Homo sapiens: one gene and its partner. The protein of the gene in region 1 interacts with the protein of each later gene in a pairwise test. Each region holds a gene or a part of one and is shown on either strand. Other genes may lie near its edges.

What was found. Proteins that work in one complex are often made in the same cells at the same time.
Region 2: the proteins of TMEM14B (region 1) and PLP2 interact in binary tests that used the Homo sapiens proteins (3 or more experiments, as listed by UniProt).

Annotation. Positions count from the first base shown.
Region 1 is NC_000006.12:10,743,204-10,750,869, reverse strand, and holds the start of TMEM14B (transmembrane protein 14B), read right to left. Parts: upstream 3,066-7,666; 5' UTR 2,989-3,065; intron 1,669-2,988; coding exon of another isoform or gene 1,625-1,668; coding exon 1,602-1,624; intron 1,249-1,601; coding exon 1,172-1,248; intron 1-1,171. UniProt on the Homo sapiens protein: Primate-specific protein involved in cortical expansion and folding in the developing neocortex. May drive neural progenitor proliferation through nuclear translocation of IQGAP1, which in turn promotes G1/S cell cycle transitions.
Region 2 is NC_000023.11:49,167,008-49,174,897, reverse strand, and holds the start of PLP2 (proteolipid protein 2), read right to left. Parts: upstream 3,001-7,890; 5' UTR 2,898-3,000; coding exon 2,802-2,897; intron 1,770-2,801; coding exon 1,617-1,769; intron 1,511-1,616; coding exon 1,415-1,510; intron 564-1,414; coding exon 473-563; intron 227-472; coding exon 204-226; 3' UTR 1-203. UniProt on the Homo sapiens protein: May play a role in cell differentiation in the intestinal epithelium.

The sequences.
Region 1 (7,666 bases):
GACAGAACTATGACTAGGCCTTCTTTTGTAATGCCTAACCTTGTTTTTACTAACCCTGTTTTTAGACTCTCCCTTTCCTTTAATCACCTAGCCTTGTTTCCACCTGAATTGACTCTTCCTTAGCTAAGAGAGCCAGACAGACTCCATCTTGGCTCTTTCACTGGCAGCCCCGTCCTCAAGGACTTAACTTGTGCAAGCTGACTCCCAGCACATCCAAGAATGCAATTAACTGATAAGATACTGTGGCGAGCTATATCCGCAGTTCCCAGGAATTCGTCCGATTGATAATGCCCAAAGCCCCGCGTCCATCACCTTGTAATAGTCTTAAAGCCCCTGCACCTGGAACTGTTTACTTTCCTGTAACCATTTATCCTTTTAACTTTTTTGCCTACTTTACTTCAGTAAAATTGTTTTAACTAGACCCCCCCCCCACCCCATTCTAAACCAAAGTATAAAAGAAAATCTAGCCCCTTCTTCAAGGCCGAGAGAACTTTGAGTGTTAGCCGTCTTTTAGGCCCCAGCTAAATAAACAGACTCTTAATTCGTCTCAAAGTGTGGCGTTTTCTCTAACTCGCTCAAGTACAACACTTTCTAATCAGGCCTCATCAACCATGAAGGGCTGGAATTGTGTACAGGCAGGACCTCCAGCAAATCACAAAAGCAGAAGGAAATAGGGCCAGGCAGTTAAAAAAAAAATAGAAGATCAGGAGAATAAGAAGTCTGGTGCAGGGATTGGGGTGGGAATGCAGGCAAGGACTAGGGGGCAAAAACAAGCACAGCCACTGACACACCCCTGCCTGGCCTAATGAGGAAACTTCAAAATACCAGTCTGTGTAGGCCAGAGGTTGACTCCTACTTAAGCCCAGAGATGGCACTTGGGGGTCATGGCTGATGAATGGCAGTCAATGATAATAACAAACTACAACCACCCCTGCCTACCTTTAGATAAAGAGGCAAAAATAAGTAATTCCACAAGAGGCCTGGCTCAGCTTCACCAGATAAGCAAAAGGCAAGGGCAGGAGCTGCAAGACTGACAAGGAAGCCTGCACTCCAGCTTGGGGACCTACAGCAAAGCTGAGTCAAACGAGATTGCTTCTCAGGGACACAGGCACTCACATTTCACTGGAACAACGTGAAGATGTTAAGAGGCTAAGTAACAACAAAACCCTACCTGTTTTTACATAGCCAACGATCCCACCAGAAACAACCAGTGCTGTGTAGCCAAAGCCAAACCAATGCAAAGGCACTCTGAAAACACAAGAGAAGTCAGTGAGAAGTCAGTGCTAACCTGGATTTAAAAACAAACCATATTGTCATAGGATGGGGCTAAAAGGTAATCATTCCCCACAGGTCCTATGTGCCCACAGGTACTATCACTGAAAATAAGCACCACAGAGGTTGGATGACTTTCTGAGAGTCACACAACTAAGCAAAGCTAGAGCTGGGACTCAAACCCAAGTTTCTGGCCCACAGGTCCAGTGATCCTCCCATCCCGCACGCCATCCCAGGCAGTCTACTCTTAGGGTTCTTTTCAGCTGAGGAAAGGAACTCTGGTTTCCAGAAGCTCCTGGCTACTCTCTAACCATTTACTGTCTACTCACAATGGGAAGAGGGGCTTCTCCATTCTTCTCTTCTCAGTCCAGAAAGGAGACTACCCCAGGCCTGCATCTGGGGAAAACAAGCCGGATCAGCAGTGGTTAAAAGCACAGCTCCCCAGCAGTCAGAAAGAAGTGTGTCCAACCTGCAGGCTATGCAACCTAAGTCTCAGTATCCTTCACTGTACCATGAGGATAACACTGGTACCAATTTCCTGGGGGTGTTGTGAGCATTCAATGGATGTCACATGTAAAGGTGCTTAGCACCTAGTAAACCCTGAACAGATGCCGATCATTTCACATAGGTCCACAGGAAACTCAGCAAGATCCACTGACCAGCTCTATAATCAGGGAATGTGTTAGTCATTTCATTAAGCACTCACATTATCACTAAATCGGAAAGCAAATACTCCCGTGCCCTTAATCCAACTACTTTAATGTCTCTTTTGAGGGGTGGTAGGGATGTTGCTTTTCTTCACTGATGCAACAGCCAATTTCAATACTCAATTTTTTTTTTTAGAAACTTCTGCATCCAACTCACAGTTCTCGTTAGGAGGGCAGAAGGGGAGGGTAAAATACACGGAAACTCAAGTCAGAATCACATGTGACATTGCACCCTTGGAAAAACAGCTCCTATTTTCTTACAGAAAAGTATTCTGTATGCAGTGAACCTAACAAGATGGAAAGCAATGCATACGCCGTTTATTCTGTTTAAAGAATTAGGCCAGGCAAAGTGGCTCACGCCTGTAATCCCAGTACTTTGGGAGGCCCAGGCAGGCGGATTACCTGAGGTTAGGAGTTCGAGAACAGCTTGGTCAACATGGTGAAACCCATATTCTATTAAAACACACACACACACACACAAATCGGGCATGATGGCATGCACCTGTAATCCCAGCTACTTGGGAGGCTGAGGTGGGAGGATGGCTTGAGCCCAGGAGGCAGAGGCTGCAATAAGACATATTCAGGCTACTGCACTCCAGGCTGGGCGACACAGCGAGAACCCCTCCCCACCCCCCAAAAAAAGAAAGAATTAATTTCCCATAAAACGGGGAAGGGCAGCGGGCTTGGGATCTTGCCCACAGTTCTTAACTCGAGGCGGCACTGAGTAAGGGAGGCTTTTAAAGAGCTGGAGCAACAAAACCACCAGGAAACGAGGCAACACTATGCTACAAGGGTAAGCCTTTGCCTCAGGAGCTCAGGTGCTCCGAGCATCCACAGCCTCTTTTAAGACAAGCAGAAAATACCCAAGGAGAAAAGCACCGACCACACGGCATAAAGGCCCGCTGAATCGGGGGGACGAAAAGCAGACGGCCGTGAAACTCCTAAATAATCCCTAAAAGTTAAAAGTGGCAGAAAATAAAAACAATACTCTCCAAAGACCTGCACCGACCTGCCGAAGGCCCGCGGAGTCCACTACGGAGCGCAAGCCGCGGGACACAGCAGCCAGGTCTCTCCGGAAACGCGATTGCGTGCGCGCTGCGCCCCGGGGCCGCGGCAGGGCGGGGAGAAAGGCGGGACGTCGTGGCGCGTGCGCAGTGTCCTTGGAGAGAGGTGAGCGGAGAATGGGGACAGTGGGGGCGGGGCTTGAGCCGCGGATTACCAGCACGCGCCCTGCATCCCGGGGGCGGGGAGTGAGGCGGGGCATCGCGGCTAGCGCCGTTGGCGGGGAACCGGGCGGGGAATCTCTGTGCTTCCTCAGTCCCCAGGCCCAGCACCTGCAGGGCCGACCAGCTCCAGTCCCAGGTCCAATCCTGAGTGGCCAAAAGCCGGAAACCCGGAGTTGGAATTGGATCTTGCACAAGCTGGACCACGTAAGCTGGGCCAGGCCAGAGGTGGAGGCCACCGCTGCGGGAGGAGGGCATCTGATGATTTTGAAGGACCCCATTAATAGAGGGTATAAACCAGGTGCGGGCCATCAGGGAGGATTGTCACTCTGGCCCGATCTTGTTTGTTTACACCAGGAAGGGCCTGCCTTCCACCTGCAAGAAAATATGGCAGCTGCAGAATAATGTGGCGCAATGCCAAATATCCGTTTGTTTTAGGGAGTGAGGCTACTTGAGAAGCATCTTAAATGGGGAGAGAGAGCAAGTTAAATCTGATTTCCACGCAGCTCTGTGGATTCCGAATGTCCACAGTATGATGTTATCTCCATTCCCACTTCCGAGCCGCTCCTCTTCTGTGTTTCCTGCACCACCATTCGCTCAGTTGCTCTACACTAAAATTTGCTGTCATCGTTGACTTCTCCCTCTCCTTCATCCCCTACAAGTATCAACATAGACAACTCCGATCAATATAATCATCAGTGAATAAAGCAAATTGCAGCGCATATTCTTAAAGACAAACTTTCCACTTGCAGCAGCACCTACCTTCCAGATAGCTAAATTGAAGCCCGTGTTTATCATAGCTGCTTCTAACCAGCCAGAGCTGATAATAACTAAGAACTTGCAGGAATTGCAGTATGCCAGACCTTCAATTTAATTGAAGACTTTCCTGAACAATTAATGAGACTTGTCTTAACCAGCAGGGAATGGCTTTAGGGACTCATTCTTCCCTATGCAGGTGCAAGCCTCAAACCTTAATTAGGATCATCCACCATGATCCTCGAGCCCTTCCCCACCTTATACTTGAAGAGGCTGAACCTCAGAGAATTAAATTACCTACAGTCCTGGTCACTGGTAGAGCTATTATTTAAAGTAAGGTCTAATGTCAAAGCCTGCGTCCTTAATTCTACCATATGCTGCTTCTTGCAGTGTCGTTCCTCAACCAGAACACATAGCTCTTCTGTGTAGGTAAAGTCCATCAAAACATGTCATAAAATAAATTAAAGAAATTGGTTTCTGCTCTATTTCAATTAGTACCAGAGTAAAACAATCAATGATTTGTGTTTGGGAATATTTCTAGTTGGCATTAACGTTGTTAGGAGATAGCTTAGCTCTTCACTGGGGGCCCACTGAATTATCGGAACCCTGGAACACAAATGTGTCAAAAGGGTGTAATCAAAATTATGTCAGGGAATGTTAAGTTTCTAGTCTTTGGTCACTGAGGCCTATCAGTAGGTTTGGGTGTTTTGTTTTGTTTTTCCCACAAAGAGGCTTTGAGTAAGAATTGTGTCTGGTAGACAAACACAGGTACACACACAGGTGTGTACTCACACAGCAAGAGCAGTAGAGATCATCTCCCACAACACAAGAGCTCATGAAGAAAGGGAATTGAGCTTCAATGTAAGCATTAGTTTAGCATTTTTGGAGCCTGAATGTGTTGACTTTACAAATTAAGAAGTCCCTGAACAAAAACGTCAAAAACAAATCCCAAGTTGCAGTCTGCCCAGGTAATTCATGTCTATCAAGTGTCTACAATACCAATTTCTACATCTTTGGGAGTATTTTATAGGTTTGTTTGAAGAGCAAGGTCAATAACTCTTTCCCCAAGAAATAAATGAAATCATAAAAAAAAAACCGCCTATTTTCTTAACCTAACCTATCTGCCATCTACTTCTGGATCATATTCATTGGAGCCATAAAAATATTAGCAGAAGCATATGCAGTTCTTATTATCTGCCACTGTTGGAAGCGCTTTACATATGTTAACTAACTTACACTTCATACCAACTCTGTGCAGTGACGACTATGATTATCTCCTGCTTTACACATGGAAGAAATTGAGGCACAGACTACAAGGTCACACAGCAAATGGCAGAGCTGTCCTAACTCTGCATTTGTTTCTTGCAGTGAAGAGTCTTTTTTCTGTCTCTTAGTCTGTTCTCAACACAGTGACCAGAGCACTTGGGTTAGAAGTCTGACTGTGCCATTTCTCTCCCCAAAACCCTCTGGTGGCACCCCTTTTCTCAGGCAGTGCTTTGCAAAGCCCCACACATCCTCCTCCCTGACATCAGCATCTTCTCTTTCCCCCTCACTTGTGTTTCCTTCTTGCCCTCAGCTGCTTCATCTGCCTGGAACGCCTCCCCAGACAATCTCCTGGTTCACGCCCTCTCCTCCTTTCTGTCTTTACGCAAATGTCACTTCTCAGAGAGACCTTCCCTAATCACCTGATTTAAAACTTCAACTCATCTGCATTTCCCCCGACAGCATCTTTCCTTCCATGACAATTCCCTGCTAACCTGCTCTGTAACTGGCTTAATCATCGTAGAGCCTACCTCCCCCTTTTTTGCATGTTTGTTTCATGGGAGTGATGATATTTATGCAGCATTTAGCACAGTGCCTGGCCCATAACCAGTACTCAGTAAACATGTGTTGAATGGACAAGTAGATGTGGAGTGAGAAATGAGAGGGGTGGTCGGCAGACAGGAGAACAAAGGCCACATGTACAGTTTGCCCTGGCTGTACCCTGGCTCTGGTTCTTCCTGCCTTGGCCTCAGCCAGATACACCTGTGTCCTTCTCATGTACTTACCCCCACGTCCTCTGTTGAAGCTTAGGACATCCAGAGTTGCATTTGTTTCTTGCAGTGAAGAGTCTTTTAAAATCTGAAATAGGCTGTGAGCGGTGGCTCACGCCTGTAATCCCATCACTTTGGGAGGCTGAGGCACATGGATCACCTGAGGTCAGGAGTTCGAGACTAGCCTGGCCAACATGGTGAAACGCTGTCTCTACTAACAATACAAAAAAAAAAAAATAGCCGGGTGTGATGGTGCACGCCTGTAATCCCAGCTACTCAGGAGGCTGAGATGGAAGAATCGCTTGAACCTAGGAGGCAGAGGTTGTAGTAAGCCGAGATCACTCTACTGCACTCCAGCCTGGGTGACAGAGGGAGACTCCATTTCCAAAAAAAAGAAAAGAAAAATGAAAAATTGAGTTGACATCATGGGCCCTGTGTCATTCAAAAACTCAACATTTCACTAATCAGTCAAGCTGCCCATGACTGCCCCAGGCCATTGCATTCAATATGTTAATTTATTTACCAAAGCTGTGTCTTTCAGAAGGGTTGTGTTTTTCCTTTTAGCCCTCAGAATCTAGGATAGCACCTGGCACACATGGTGAGCACTCACTTCATGGCTGTCGGATAAACAATGGAGCAAGGAAGGTGGAGATGGATGCTTACACATGGGGAATTGTATCAGGAAGGAGTGTATGTGTGATTAAAACCTGTTCTACATAAATAGAAAAGTTGATCATTCAACACATGGACGGCTAAGACTATATGCAGACTATCCATTCTCAGGAAGAAAAGGGAAGCAATCTACCTGACTTCCCCAAATGGATTCCGTATTTTGATATGAATTGTTATCATGTGGGAAATGCGATGGCCTCCAGGTATACTACCTCAGAGATCAGTGAGCAGAAAAGCTCACAGATCAAATTAAAATGCTTGAATCTCTTAGTTTATTTAAATCAATTTAAAGAGACAGTGAAAAGCAAGAGGAAAGAGATGGGATAAGTAAACGCTGTCAAGAGACGGTGCAAATCTGGTGGAAGATGCCTGCTACCTAAAGCCTACCTCATACAATGTTCAGGGGCCACCATCCCCCACCTGCCCCAACCTCCACCCCTCTCTGTGATATTGACTTTCCTGTGGATCGTGGTGCTGAAGACGACAGGTTTGAGCAAGGAGACTCAAAGAGGCAAGGTGCCCCACGCCAATGACACAAACTTGCTCTGTCCGAGATGCAGGTACAAGCAAGCCTAGCAAAGAGCTGAGCTTTGCCTGTTGGCCTGTGGAGCAACCATGGGTTTTACTGTGTTTCTTGGACAGAGGACACTTGGGGACAGAAGTGAATAGCATGACTATTTCATGCTTATGTATATTTTATGCACTGTATTTAGTGCCTCTTGGACATTTAATGTATCAAATATTTCATGCTCAGGTGTCTCATGTATACTTGGTAGCTAGGAATGTTAGGTATCCTGGACTTTCTATTCCTTTCTGTGTCTAACACATGTTCTACTTACTACTTAACACATCTAATAAAATCTGCCTATGTTTTAAAAACTAAGATTTATCTATACTTAACTTGTACTAAAAGCTTTCCCCTGTATTTCACAAACATATTAATCTTCCTTAAAAGTATTGAATACTCCCAAAAACAAATGTATATTCCAACTTTTTATTTTCA
Region 2 (7,890 bases), on another chromosome or scaffold:
AGGACCTAGGCACACACATATGGTGGCCACACCCAGGAGGGTTGATTGGCAGGCTGGAAGACAAAAGTCTCCCAATAAAGGCACTTTTACCTCAAAGAGGGGGTGGGAGTTGGTCTGCTGGGAATGTTGTTGTTGGGGTGGGGAGGAGTTATTTCAATGGAGGAGTTATTTGCAGATTGCAGAGAGAAATGAGGGAAGTTCGCCTACACCGGGCCATCTGCGGGGTCTGCAGGTGAGGAAAAGAGAGAAAGCATTGGCTGAATCTATATGCCCATTTTTTAAAACAAGATCCAAAGTCCATGAACATTTTACACACAAGAATACCGAAGCTTATGGTACCTATTGGTACAAAAGCCCTAAGTACCAATACGAGACCAGAGTTGGCATTCGTGCCTTTAAGAGATCCCTTTCCTTTTTCCCTCTGCCCTCTCAGCAACCCCCTTACCCCCAACCAACACACACACACACTTACCAGTGGGGGCTGCTGTATGTCTTGGCTGCCGAACGGGGAAGGTGACATAGGCATCATAGCCAAAGAGGCACGTAGCGATTAGGCCCAGTACCTGGGGGACAGGATAGGAGTGAGGGGGTTTAGATTAGCTGGTCAGGTTACTCAGTCTCTTATCTTCTTGTATCCACCACCTCCAGCACCTGCCCCACGCAGGATGGGACTCAAGCACCGGGTTGGTAAGCCAGGGAAAGGCCAAGAGAGTGCATCCTACCCCACTCTCCCTCCTCCTATACCTCTCAACACAGGGAGGCCACACTGTGGCCCTACCCGTAGGGGGCACAATTCAAGTCATACTTTTTTTTTTTTTGAGACACAGTATCACTCTGTCACCCATCTGTCACTGGGGCTGGAGTGAGTGGCATGATCTTGGCTCACTGCAACCTTTGTCTTCTGGGTTCAAGTGATTCTCCTGCCTCAGCCTCCTGAGTAGCTGGGACTATAGGCGCCCACCACCATGCCCGGCTGATTTTTGTATTTTTAGTGGAGATGGGGTTTCGCCATGTTGGCCAGGCTGGTCTTGAACTCCTGACCTCAAGTGATCTGCCTGCCTCGGCCTCAGCCTCCCAAAGTGCTGGGAATACAGGCATGAGCCACTGCGCCCGGCCCCAATTTCTACTACATTTGGGACAAAGTTCTTGCAGATGGTAGTCTAGTGCATTGACAAAGGGGCCGCCTGTTTGTACCTCTCACCAAGGTCCTTGTGTCTGACAAGGGACTTCCCTTCACAGCAAATGAAGACCTTGGGAGGCAAAACCAAGTCCTGGGCCAGACTTTCCTCCATGTCTGAGGACAAGTGTGACTTGCTGTGGGTCACACGATTTCTGCCAGAAGCAAAGGCAGAAATGGTCCCTGGCTCCTCAAACCCTTCGCTCTGTGCTTCAGAGCTGCTCCCATGGCCTTTACCCCTGCGACGATTTTGGAGTGGTTTCCTCTCTCAACAAGGACAACAATGGAGGTGATCAGGTAGAGGATTGCCGCTATGAGGGTTCGGAAGAAATCCTGTGAGGTGTAGGGAGGAGAAGAGGGAAGTCAGCAACCACAGTTCCCCGACAATCCTAACTGCCCAGACCCCTCCCTGGTCTTGCCATTGTGGACCCCTTCTCACACTCCAGGGCCAGTTGATGAATGGTATCTTGGTGTGCAGGTCACACATGTAGACAACAAAGAAAATAGCAGCAAGGATCATCTCAATCACCGACAGGGAGGAGTAGCCTGGTGTGGAGGCACTGAAGCAGATCAGGATCACCAGGCATAATATCTGGAAGGGTGACATGGGAAAGGGGACCTCAATCAGCAACCAGGGCTGAGAAGATTGGTTTAAATTGGGGGTCCCATACTAAGATGCCTACGAGGGCTGGGGAAATGACATACAATAATAGCTAAACACTTTTTATGTGCTCACTGTGTTCCAAATTCAATCATCACGACAATCTAATGCTCTGGGTACTATTATTACTCTTTCTAATTTATAGACGAGAAAACTGAGGCACAGAGAGGTTTAATGGCTTGGCCAGGGTCACCCAACAAGTAAGGAGTAGAGTTGGGTGCCTCAGTTTCCTCTTTTCCCTTCTAGGTTACGGGCAGCCTGAGGGGAGTGGCGCTGCCAGGTGTTTTGTGAGCCCCGCTGACGCCAGCTTTGTGGCCTTGACCGGGGCGGAACACGCGGTTCCCCCAGCAACCCCTTTGGGAAGCGGTGAGAGTGACACCAGAGAGGCAGGACTCCGTTAAAGGCGCCGCACCCCTTTTACAAGTGACTCAAAGGCGGCGCCCACTTTGAGAAGGGTGGAAACCCCGAAAAGCTAAGGACATCCCGCCCGGCCTCTGAAGGGCGAGGAAGAACTGGCGAAGGGCGGGGCGCTCTACACCGCGGGACTAGCGCGGGGCGGGGGGGCCCCACCCCAACAGGCCCTGCCCCTGGGCGCGCTGCCAGCCCGCCCTCCTGTGCCCAGGCCGCGCCACGCCCTGCCACAGGAGGCCCCCACTTCCCAGCACCCTGGGACCCCTTCGATGCGTCCACTGATGAGTTCACGCAGGCTGTCCCCACGTAGCCCTCCGTATGCGTTATAGGCTCCTTGCTTCACCCCGGGGACCACCAGATCTCAACAACCTTCGTCAAACCCCACCGACTCGCCCTGCGCCCCGGGTTTCGGGCCTCCACCGTGAACCCACCCACCTGCACCCCACTGCCGAGCGCCCCGGCCAAGTGCCTGCCTCACCCGGACCATCCAGTTCCGCATGGTCCAGCCACCCCATCCCGCTTTTGCCCACGCGCCTGCCCCAGAACGCTCACAATCTCAGCAAACAGGAGGATTCCCTTTCGAGTGCGCGAGAAGTTGGTGCAGGCGGCCCAGCAGCCAGGAGCCGAGAGGCGCTCAGAATCCGCCATGGCATGGGCTGGAGTCCCTGGTGCCTCGGAGGATCTGCTCACTTGCTCGTGGTTTCGAGGACGCTGTACACCCAGCTGTCTTGCCCGCCGTCTGGCCGGGAAGGGGGCCCCGGGGCGAAGGAGGGAGTGAATCACCGCGCAGAGCTGACGCGGGCGGGGCCGGAGCCGGGCCAGGTGGCTGCCGCCCCGGAAGCCCCCTCGCCCCGCCCCCCAAGGATACTCCCAGCCTGGCGCACAGCCCCCGGGGCGCCCCATCGCAGGGGTGCTTGGCAGCTCCAGGTACCAGGAGCAGTAATAGCGGGACCCTTCGCCTTTTTGGAATGCAAATGCACCCGAGACAGCTTCAGCTTAGAACCGCGGGAATCTGGCTTTGGGATGGAGTGACTCAGTTTCCTTAACTGAATAAAACGGCCGAGGCAGAGTTAAATCCGAAAGACTTGGGGCCCAGTATGTTGCCAGAATTCGGAATATTTTTGATTTCAGAAAGTTTTCCCATGCATATACTCTCAGCGGGGTTTGGAGCTGCCGCGTTACAAAAAAAAAAAAAAAGGGCCAGGCGCGGTGGCTCACGCCTGTAATCCCAACACTGGGAGGCCGAGGCGGGTGGATCACCTGAGGTCGGGAGTTCGAGACCAGCCTGACCAACATGGAGAAACACCGTCTCTACTAAAAATACAAAAATTAGCTGGGCACGGTGACGCATGCCTGTAATCCCAGCTACTCGGAAGGCTGAGGCAGGAGAATCGCTTGAACCCGGGAGGCAGAGGTTGCGGTGAGCCAAGATCATGCCATTGCACTCCAGTCTGGGCAACAAGAGCGAAACTACGTCTCAAAAACAACAACAACAACAAAAACGGTATTTCTTCAAGAAAAGGTATGAACGTTCACAATAACTGGGTAAGGATTGAAAAGTGTTCCTCGGCTGGGCGCAGTGGCTCATGCCAGTAATCCCAACACTCTGGGAGCCTCAGGTGGGAGGATCGCTTGAGCCCAAGAGTTGGAGATCAACCTCGGCAACACAGTGAGACCTCATCTCTACAAATAATTTTAAAAATTAGCCCAGGCGGCCGGACGCGGTGGCTCAAGCCTATAATCCCAGCAGTTTGGGAGGCCGAGGTGGGCAGATCACGAGGTCAGGAGTTCGAGACCAGCCTGTCCAACATGGTGAAACCCCGTCTCTACTAAAAATACACAAAAAATGAACCGGGTGTGGTGGCGCTCGCCTATAATCCCAGCTAGTCAGGAGGCTGAGGCAGGAGAATCGCTTGAACCTGGGAGGTGGAGGTTGTAGTGAGCCAAGATTGCGCCACTGCACTCCAGCCTGGGCGACAGAGCAAGACTCCGTCTCAAAAAAAAAAAAAAAAAAGAAAAAAGAAAAAAATTAGCCCAGGCATGGTGGCACGTGCCTGTAATCCCAACTACTCGGGAGGCTGAGGTGGGAGGATTGCTTGAGCCTGGGAGTTCAAGGCTGCAGTGAACCATGATCAGACCACTGCACTCCTGCCTGGGCAACAGAGCAAGACCCTGTCTCCAAAAAAGGAAAAACAAAAAGAAAGGAAGAAAGAAAATTGTTCCTCGTTAGATCAGGTCAGGTTTTGTAACCAAATAGTGCCTATCTTGTGGGAAAACCATCAGTTTCCAGAGCTTTTTGTTTTTGGATAATGGATTGTGGACAGTGGAATAAACCTCTGAGCAGTGATGAGAATAAGACCCTGCCAGTGTAAAGGCTGTGTGAGAATAGGGGTTGGTGAGCATTGAGTTGCTCAGAAATAGGGCAAGCATTGTTTCAAGTGTTAGAGCCCAAGGCCAGGAGCAGTGGCTCATGCCTGTAATCCTAGCACTTTGGGAGGCCGAGGTAGGAGAATCACTTCAGCTCAAGAGTTCGAGACCAGCCTGGGCAACGTAGTGAGAGCTTGTCTCTATTTTAAAAAAACATATTTTGTAGTAGTGTTAGAGCCCAGAGAGCCCAAGGTCTGATTCTGTGTTCTGCAATCCCAAGGAAGTCCTGGCCCTAAATGTTGGGCCTCAGTTTCCTGGTTCTGAAGAGAGGGGCCAGTCAGCACAATCGTACATGAGGAATAGGAAAGTTTATTTCTGGGGGATTGGCAAGATGAATGGATGGCTCCTGGGGTGCAAGGCTGGGTGACATTTGTAGACACTTTGTTTGTATTTATTTATTTTTTAGTAGAGACAAGGTCTCGTTATGTTGCTCAGGCTGGTCTTGAACTCCTGACCTCAAGCAATTCTCCCGCCTTGGCCTCCCAAAGTGCTGAGATTACAGGCGTGAGCCACTGCGCCTGGCTAAGTGTGTTATTTTGAGCAAGTAATTTCCCCCAGCTCAGCCTTAATTTCTGCATCTAAGACATGCATCTCGTCTCCTGGAATCAGGATCCCAGAGGTACCCTGAGGGACACACTCTCCAGACTAGAAGTTGTTTTTATTCTCATCTCATTTGAAGTGGGGGAGAATCATAACTGGATGGCCAGGAGGATTCAACCCAAGGGCCTGCCTGCTCTCTCTGCCAACACAGGGCCCCTCAAAACTAAGGAAAGAGCTCCCCTCTTTCAGCCCCGGTTGCCGGAAGAGTGAGTGAATAGTGGAAGGGATGAAACATACTTTTCCTAGTGATGAGTATGTGCTTTCCAACTCTGTGAGGACACGTCTGAATTTCTGAAACAAGATGAACCTGGTTCCACTTCAACACCTTTGCACTTGCTATTCCCCCTGCTGTCAATGCCCTTCACTCAGTGCTTCATATACCTGGCTTCTGGTCATTCAGGTTGCAGCTCAAGAGTTATGTCTTCAAAGAGGCCAGAAGCTCACCATCATCTCCCACAATGTAACCTCCTTTTGCTAGCTTCATAGCTTCATGACTCTCACTTCTCTCTGAAATTGTCTTTTTTTTTTTTTTTTTTTTTTGAGAAGGAGTTTTGCTCTTGTTGCCCAGGCTGGAGTACAATGGCACAATCTTGGCTCACCGCAACCTCCACCTCCCGGGTTCAAGCGATTCTTCTGTCTCAGCCTCCTGAGTAGCTGAGATTACAGGCATGTGCCACCACACCAGGCTAATTTTGTATTTTTAGTAGAGATGGGGTTTCTCCATATTGGTCAGACTGGTCTCGAACTCCTGACCTCAGGTGATCCGCCTGCCTTGGCCTCCCAAAGTGTTGGGATTACAGATGTAAGCCACGAGCCTGGCCTTTTTTTTTTTTTTTTTTTTTTTTTTGAGATAAGGTCTCACTGTCACTCCAGCTAGAGTGGAATGGTGCAATCATGGCTCACTGCAGCCTTGACCTCCCAGGCTCAAGTGATCCTCCCACCTCAGTGTCCCAAGTAGTTGGGACTACAGGCATGAGCCACCACTCCCAGCTAATTTTTAAACTTTTTGTAGAGACAAGGTCTATGTTGCCCAGGCTGGTATCAAACTTGTAGGCTCAAACAATCCACCCGCCTCCGCCTCCCAAAGTACTGGGATTACAGGCACAAACCACCATGTCTGGCCTGAAGTTTTTTTTTTTTTTTTTTTTTTTTTTGAGACTGATTCTCGCTCTGTCACCCAGGCTGGAGTGCAGTGGTGCGATCTTGGCTCGCTGCAACCTCCACCTCCTGGGTTCAAGCAATTCTCTGCCTCAGCCTCCCGAGTAGCTGTGATTACAGGCACCTGCTACCACACCTGGCTAATTTTTGTATTTTCAGTAGAGACGGGGTTTCACCATCTTGGCCAGGCTGCTCTTGAACTCTTGACCTCGTGATCCACCAGCCTCGGCCTCCCAAAGTGCTGGGATTACAGGCGTGAGCCACCACGCCTGGCCTGGTTTTTTATTTATTCATTTTCTCGTCTTTTTTGTCTGACATCTGTCTACTCTCATTACATACATCAGCTACACAAAGAAATTTTATGTCTTGTTCCTCCAGCATCTCCACAGTACCTAGCACAGTGCAACATATACAGTTGGGGTTCAATTAATACTTGTCAATGCAGGTGAAATTGAGAGGACAGACTTGGGAATCAGGCCTTGATTAAATCGTGCTTTGACCCTCCTCTCTGTAGCTATCTGCACTCCCTGGGCCTCACTTTCCTCCTCTGCGAAATGGACATATTCGGATAGTTGAGTAGATGTGCAACTATTGTAGATGAAAATAAATATTGCAATAAAGCCAGTAGCAGGGATAAAACTAAGTACATGGTGGCTGGGGTTACTATTATTAGTCTCCTGGGTGTGACTGTATTTATAGACTGGGGCTCTTGAGCCCTTTGCTGACTTCTGAAGAACCACACCTCCACCAGGCTCTAAGTCAGGGGTAGCTGGAAGCCACCCTGGCACACTTCCCCACAATGTCTATCTACAGCTCTAACCACTCAAGTGTTCACCTCTTCACCCTCCAGCTCCCAGCTCTCGCAGCTTGTCTTCACCGTTCCTCTTTCCTCTCCAAGGCCACCTGGACTCTCGCATTCCGGTCCTTTAAATTCTTTCTTCCTTCCCCGTCCCCTCCCCACAGGGGCGAAAGTTGCCCATTCCGTCAGACCACAGCTTCCCTCCTGTGGGGGGATGGGGCCGAGTGCTCAGGATGTGGTGACAGCGGAGGTGACTGGACATTTCTGTCCTCTGCCAGCGCCTTCCTCGCGGCTACCCCGGTTGGAGTCCCGCTGGCCATATAAGCCCTGGCTGTAGGGCTCTGTTCCCAGGGTGAAGGAAACTCTGGGCCTCTCCCGTGCCGGGAACGCCCAGTGTGTGGCGTGTGCACACAAGCCCGGCTGCAGTTCTTCACCATGTACGGAAAATGGGGGCACGGCCCAAAGGTTCTAACAGCCTTTTTTAGCCCGGCCCGTCCAGGGGCGCTGACTCACACCTTCCCCACTCCGCCCCAAAGGGGGCTCCAGGACCCCAGCCGGTGCCCGGAGAGTGGTAGCCTACGTGCCAGCAAAAGCTGGCAGACTAGGCCGGAAGTGGGAGACCGCAGGCCTCTGGCGAAGGAAGCTGCCCTGCTTCTA